2 linked regions of the Homo sapiens genome follow. The protein of the gene in region 1 purifies or fractionates together with the protein of each later gene. This does not show direct contact. Each region holds a gene or a part of one and is shown on either strand. Other genes may lie near its edges.

Region 1 (3,817 bases):
GTCACAGTAGCATGCACCTGTATAGTCCCAAGGAGTCTAGCCTGGGCAGAAAAGTAGAGACCCTGTCTCAAAAAAAAGAAGAAGCCAACTTAAATACTCTATGATCCCAACAGTAAGACCTGCTGGAAAAAGTATGGCGATAGTAAAAAGATCAGTGATTGCCACAGGGGTAAGAGGGAGGAGGGACAAGTAGACCACAGGGGATTCTCAGGACAGTGAAACTCTTCTGTATGACACTATAACGGTGGATACATGTCATGCACATTTGTCCAAAACCATAGAATGTACAACACCAACAGTGAAGCCCAATTTAAACCATGGACTTTGGTTGATAATGTTGTCAGTGTAAATTCATTGATTGTAACAAATAATATATAACCTTGCTGCTGGGTGGGGGATAGTGGGGGAAGCTATACATATGTGGCGGCAGGGAGATATGGGAAATATCTTTTACCTTATGCTCAATTTGTCTGTGAACCTAAAACTGCTCTAAAAAATAGGTCTATTAAAAAAGGACGTGAGCTCAAATATAATTAATAAAATTAATATTTTACTGCTTCAACAAGGACATTCTTTCTGTTATCTTTTCATTTACCCATTTTACAGATGAAGAGGACTTTCTTAAGTGAAAACGATGTAGTAGTGAAGAACACGACTACTAGTACAGTTTAGTGCCACTTTCTTGATTCATGTGAAGGGCCACTGTTGCTTTTGCATTATCAGCACAAATGTCAACGTACTGAAAAAGGCAAACAAAATCTTAGCATTGGCCAGGCGCGAGGCTGAGGCAGATGGATCACTTGAGGTCAGGAGTTCGAGACCAGCCTGGCCAACTTGGTGAAACCTCCATCTCTACTAAAAATACAAAAATTAGCCAGGTATGGTGCCGTGTGCCTGTAATCCCAGCTATTTGGGAGGCTGAGGCAGGAGAATGGCTTGAACTCGGGAAGTGAGCCAATATCACGCCACTGCACTCCAGCCTGGGCGACAAAGCAAGACTCTCTTTCTCAAAAAAAAAAAAAAAAATTACCGTTATTATGAAAATAATCACAGAACCTCCGAAAGAGTTCTTGGGAATCTCCGAAAGAGTTCTTAGGAACCTCCATGGGTCACTAGACCACACTTCAAGAACTGATATGTTATCCATTTTTCTGTTGAGATTTTCAGTTTTTTTCTTACTGATTTAAGAACTCTTTCTTTTTAACTTATTGAATTCAGATTAACCCTAGATTCCACATATGATGGAAATAGCTATTGTGCTGGAGGGGTGCTGTTGGGGAAATACATGTATGTGTTTATATAGTTGAGTCTAATGGTATTTTCCAGTGTATATTGCTATTTTTTTTTTTTTTTTGAGATGGAGGTTTGCTCTTGTTGCCCAGGCTGGAGTGCAATGGCATGATCTCGGCTCACCGCAACCTCTGCCTCCCGGGTTCAAGCGATTCTCCTGCCTCAGCCTCCCGAGTAGCTGGGATTATAGGCATGCGCCACCACGCCTGGCTAATTTTGTATTTTTAGTAGAGATGGGGTTTCTCCATGTTGGTCAGGCTGGTCTCGAACTCCTGACCTCAGGTGATCTGCCCGCCTCGGCCTCCCAAAGTGCTGGGATTACAGGCATGAGCCACTGTGCCCAGCCCTTTTTTTTTGCTGACAGGGTCTCGCTCTGTCACCCAGGCTGGAGTGCAGTGGTGCGATCTCGGCTTACTGCAACCTCTGCCTCCCAGGGTGAAGCAATTCTCCTGCCTCAGCCTCCCAAGTAGCTGAGATTATAGGTGCTTGCCACCATGCCTGGCTAGTTTTTGTATTTTTAGTAGAGATGGGGTTTTACCATGTTGACCAGGCTGGTCTCTACCTCCTGACCTCAGGTGATCCACCCACCTCAGCCTCCCAAAGTGTTGGGATTACAGGCGTGAGCCACCGAGCCTGGCCTAGATTAAAAAACTTAAAAAGCAGAGCCAGAAAAGACATAAATGATAGAATTAGCAGACAAGGAAAACATAAACACAGTAATGAGAGATACAGAAGATAAAAGAAAGAATCAGGCCAGGTACAGTGGCTCACGCCTATAATCCCAGCACTTTGGGAGGCTGAGATGGGCGGCTCACTTGAGGTCAGGAGTTTGAGAGTTTGAGACCAGCCTGGCCAAAATGGTGAACCCCGTCTCTACTAAAAATACAAAAATTTAGCGAGGTGTTCTGACGTACACCTGTAATCCCAGTTACTCGGGAGGCTGAGGCAGCAGAATGGCTTGAACCCGGGAGGTGGAGGTTGCAGTGAGCCAAGATCATGCCACTGCCCTCCAGCCAGGGTGACAGAGCAAGACTCTGTCTCAAAATAAAATAAAAATATAAATAAAGAAAGAAATAAAAGAACCAGCCAGGCACAGTGGCTCATGCCTTAATCTCGGCACTTTGGTGGGGGTTAAGACAGGAGAGTGCTTGAGGCCAGGAGTTTGAGACCAGCCTGAGCAACATAGCAAGAACTCTTCTCCATTAAAAAAAAAATAAGAAGAAAAAAAAAGAACCAGGCCGGGTGCCGTGGCTCACGCCTGTAATCCTAGCACTTCGGAGGCCGAGGTGGGGATCACCTCAGGTCAGGGGTTCGAGATCAGCCTGGCTAACATGGTGAAACCCCATCTCTACTAAAAATACAAAAATTAGCCAGACATGGTGCGCATGCCTGTAATCCCAGCTACTCAGGAGGCTAAGGCAGGAGAATTGCTTGAACCAAGGAGGCAGAGGTTGCAGTGAGCTGAGATCATACCATTTGCACTCCTGCCTGGGTGACAGAGTGAGAGTCTGTCTCAAAACAAACAAACAAACAAAACCAAATGGAGCACCTAGAGAAGAAAAATTGCATATTTTAAATGTAAACCTTACTAGATAGAATTAACAGCATGTTTAACACTGTGGGGAAAAAAAAAAGGTCAGTTGAAGATATAGCAAATGAAATGAGCCAAAATGAAGCACAGATTAAAAAAAAACCTGGGTGGGCAGGGTAGTGGGGGAGGACAGAATAGAAAAGAACTTCGATGACCTATGGATATCAAGTGGTCTAACATCTGTAACTGGAATCTCAGAGGGTGTGAGTGGGCATTATAATAAAGATAAACTCTAGGCCAGGCGTGGTGGCTCATGCCTGTAATCCCAGCACTCTGGGAGGCTGAGGCAGGCGGATCACCTGAGGTCAGGGGTTTGAGACCAGACTGGCCACCATGGCGAAACCCCATCTCTACTAAAAATACAAAAATTAGCCGGGTGTGGTGGTGCATGCCTGTAACCCCAGCTACTGGGGAGGCTGAGGCAGGAGAATCAGTCAAACCTGGGAGGCGGAGGCTGCGGTGAGGCGAGATCGTACCACTGTACTCCAGCGTGGGCGATAAAGTGAGACTGTGTCTCAAAAACAAACAAACAAACAAAACACACTCTAATGATTAGAACTTTGCCTTTAAAAAAGTATCAGTCTTGGTCAGGTGCAGTGGCTTATGCCTGTAATCCCAGCACTTTGGGAGGCTGAGGTGGGAGGATTGCTTAAGTTCAGGAGTTCGAGACCAGCCTGGGCAACATGGCAGACCCCATCTCTATTTTTTAAAAAACATTTTAAGTTTATAATGTAAAAAAGTTACAGTAATCTGAAGTTAGCTTATTACTGAAGAAAGAAAAAAAATGTTATAGGCTGGGCACAGTGGCTCATTCCTATAATCCCAGTACTTTGGGAGGTCAAGGCAGGCAGATTGCTTGAGCCCAAAAGTTCAAGTCCAGCCTGGGAAACATAGTGAGACCTTGCCTCTAAAAAAAAAAAAGAAAGAAAAAAATAT
Region 2 (3,817 bases), on another chromosome or scaffold:
TCTTTTACTTCTGGATTTCAAAATAAAATTTTATGGTTTAAAATAGATGTAAAGGTAGAAATTAACAGAAAGATGTTTTGTTTTTAATTTTGACATTCAAAAGGGGACTAGTAAACTGGAGACGTTTTTGTTGTGTTCTGGATTTGGGAGTATTTTTAAAAATAATTGTTTTAAATGTAAAATAAATAATAGGTAATTCCTAAAGCAACAGGGTTAGTGTTTCAGGAAGAAGTACTTTAGACTTCCACTGGGAAAAAATTAATTTTTCTTATTGGTTAGACTTTTGCAGCTCCAGAGATCGGTTGTCTGCCAAGAATCAGACCTTCCTGATGAGCTGCTTTATGGACGGGCAGGTTATCTGTATGCCTTACTGTACCTGAACACAGAGATAGGTCCAGGCACCGTGTGTGAGTCAGCTATTAAAGAGGTACTATGGGGTATGGGTAACTATGGGCGTCTCTACCATTCAAACCTATTTGCTAGCATTGAGTTGTATTAACAGCTGGACTTTACTTCTAGGTAGCATTACTTTTTTAAAGCAACTCATCAAAAGTAAGAAATAGTCCCTGCTTTTTTCTAGGAACATTAACAAAAAAAATCTGTACTCTCTTTCATCTTGTATTAATTTATCAGTTTTTACTGGAGCTAAACAGCAGCAGCTTCAGAAAGTTAGAATGTTTATTTATCTTTCGTGAGATGTCTCAGCTGGTAAGCATTTCAGGCTGGTATGAGTGGGGACCAGCTTCTTCTGTCTCATTCTGCCTTATCCTAGGGGCATACCCTTATTTGCAGGACCAAGGCTAGTTTAGCCCCTCAGCCTATGAAGGGAAAAGAGGAGGTGGAGGCAACGCAGCTTCCTTGTTAGGGACTCAGTCTCCAAGTTGCCCTCTTTACTTCTGCTCCCATCCCAGTGCCAGAACTTCATCAAGTGTCTGTGTTCAGCTGTCTCTAACTAGGGAGCCAGATGCCCAGCTAAAACTTGGAATACTTTCCCAAAAAGGATGAGAGGAGATAGACGTGAGGAAACAGTCATCCCAGACATGATATTCTGTTGATCTAACTGAAATCCTTCATGCCACAGCAGACCTCATATCATTAGCCTTTTATAAATAAAGCCAGTTCCTCCAGCCTTTCCTGATAGGTGTATGTGCTGCTCTTTTGGGAAAAATACTGCAGCTACGAAGCAACTAAGAAATCCAAAACAGTTTTATAAGAAGTTTTTCTAGATTTTTCGTTGACTTTTTATGCAAAGAATTTTTTATTTCTTAGACAGTATCTTTTCCTACTCTGACATTGGCTCCTGATTTCTTTTTGCCTGCATTTATTAATTTATAAAATAAATATAACTATATTAGCTGCTAACTGCTTAAAGACTTTTAGATTAAGGCTTCTGCCTCTCTCTCTATATATGTCATATATATATGACATACTGTTAATTAGACTACAACAGGGTACATATACAGTTTTAGATTTATGCTGTCTTGTTATCTCTGTAGGTAGTCAATGCTATTATTGAATCGGGTAAGACTTTGTCAAGGGAAGAAAGAAAAACGGAGCGCTGCCCGCTGTTGTACCAGTGGCACCGGAAGCAGTACGTTGGAGCAGCCCATGGCATGGCTGGAATTTACTATATGTTAATGCAGGTAGGTAAGAATACTCTTACACACTACAGTATATTTGATCAAACATGAAATGGGAAATGAATCCTGCATATAAACAAAGCAGTCTGGATTGAAATACCCTACTTTGAATCGCTGATGCGTAACTCTGCCACATAAACCACAGGCAGTGGATTTCTAAGAGTCCAGTGAGTTCCTGAGTACATTTGGTATGGAGTCTTTTTTTTTTTTTTTTTTTTTTTTTTCCAATTTTCTTTTTTTTTTTTTTTTGATCATTCTTGGGTGTTTCTCGCAGAGGGGGATTTGGCAGGGTCACAGGACAGTAGTGGAGGGAAGGTCAGCAGATAAGTGAACAAAGGTCTCTGGTTTTCCTAGGCAGAGGACCCTGCGGCCCTCTGCAGTGTTTGTGTCCCTGGGTACTTGAGATTAGGGAGTGGTGATGACTCTTAACGAGCATGCTGCCTTCAAGCATCTTGTTTAACAAAGCACATCTTGCACCACCCTTAATCCATTTAACCCTGAGTGGACACAGCACATGTTTCAGAGAGCACAGGGTTGGGGGTAAGGTCACAGATCAACAGGATCCCAAGGCAGAAGAATTTTTCTTAGTACAGAACAAAATGAAAAGTCTCCCATGTCTACCTCTTTCTACACAGACATGGCAACCATCCGATTTCTCAATCTTTTCCCCACCTTTCCCCCCTTTCTATTCCACAAAACCGCCATTGTCATCATGGCCCGTTCTCAATGAGCTGTTGAGTACACCTCCCAGACGGGGTGGTGGCCGGGCAGAGGGGCTCCTCACTTCCCAGTAGGGGCGGCCGGGCAGAGGCGCCCCTCACCTCCCGGACGGGGCGGCTGGCCGGGCAGAGGGGCTCCTCACTTCCCAGTAGGGGCGGCCAGGCAGAGGCGCCCCTCACCTCCCGGACGGGGCGGCTGGCCGGGCGGGGGGCTGACCCCCCCGCCTCCCTCCCGGACGGGGCGGCTGGCCGGGCGGGGGGCTGACCTCCCCGCCTCCCTCCCCGGACGGGGCGGCTGGCCGGGCAGAGGGGCTCCTTACTTCCCAGTAGGGGCGGCCAGGCAGAGGCGCCCCTCACCTCCCGGACGGGGCGGCTGGCCGGGCGGGGGGCTGACCCCACCACCTCCCTCCCGGACGGGGCGGCTGGCCGGGCAGAGGGGCTCCTCTCCTCCCAGTAGGGGCGGCCGGGCAGAGGCGCCCCCCACCTCCCGGATGGGGCGGCTTGCCGGGCGGGGGGCTGACCCCCCCACATCCTTCCCGGACGGGGCGGCTGGCCAGGCGGGGGATGACCCCCCCACCTCCCTCCCGGATGGGGCGGCTGGCTGGGCGGGGGGCTAACCCCCCCACCTCCCTTCCGGACGGGGCGGCTGGCCGGGCGGGGGGCTGACCCCCACCTCCCTCCCAGACGGGGTGGCTGCCGGGCGGAGACGCTCCTCACTTCTCAGACGGGGCGGTTGCCGGGCGGAGGGTCTCCTCACTTCTCAGACGGGGCGGCCGGGCAGAGACGCTCCTCACATCCCAGACGGGGCGGCAGGGCAGAGGCGCTCCCCACATCTCAGACGATGGGCGGCCTGGCAGAGACGCTCCTCACTTCCTAGATGGGATGGCGGCTGGGCAGAGATGCTCCTCACTTTCCAGACTGGGCAGCCAGGCAGAGAGGCTCCTCACATCCCAGACGATGGGCGGCCAGGCAGAGACGCTCCTCACTTCCCAGACGGGGTGGCGGCCGGGCAGAGGCTGCAATCTCGGCACTTTGGGGGGCCAAGGCAGGCAGCTGGGAGGTGGAGGTTGTAGCGAGCCGAGATCACGCCACTGCACTCCAGCCTGGGCACCATTGAACACTGAGTGAGTGAACGCGACTCCGTCTGCCATCCCGGCACCTCGGGAGGCCGAGGCTGGCGGATCACTCGCGGTTAGGAGCTGGAGACCAGCCTGGCCAACACAGCGAAACCCCGTCTCCACCAAAAAAATACGAAAACCAGTCAGGCATGGCGGCGCGCGCCTGCAATCGCAGGCACTCGGCAGGCTGAGGCAGGAGAATCAGGCAGGGAGGTTGCAGTGAGCCGAGATGGCAGCAGTACAGTCCAGCTTTGGCTCGGCATCAGGGGGAGACCGTGGAAAGAGAGGGAGAGGGAGAGGGAGAGGAGGGAGAGGGAGAGGAGGAGCCTTTCCAATTTTC

What was found.
Region 2: the proteins of PPP1R14D (region 1) and LANCL2 purify together in Homo sapiens (affinity purification with mass spectrometry; one large-scale study listed by BioGRID and IntAct). This does not show direct contact.

The regions. Positions count from the first base shown.
Region 1 is NC_000015.10:40,818,530-40,822,346, forward strand, and holds part of PPP1R14D (protein phosphatase 1 regulatory subunit 14D), read right to left. Parts: intron 1-3,817. UniProt on the Homo sapiens protein: Inhibitor of PPP1CA. Has inhibitory activity only when phosphorylated, creating a molecular switch for regulating the phosphorylation status of PPP1CA substrates and smooth muscle contraction.
Region 2 is NC_000007.14:55,399,678-55,403,494, forward strand, and holds part of LANCL2 (lanC-like protein 2), read left to right. Parts: intron 1-279; coding exon 280-427; intron 428-1,496; coding exon 1,497-1,643; intron 1,644-3,817. UniProt on the Homo sapiens protein: Necessary for abscisic acid (ABA) binding on the cell membrane and activation of the ABA signaling pathway in granulocytes.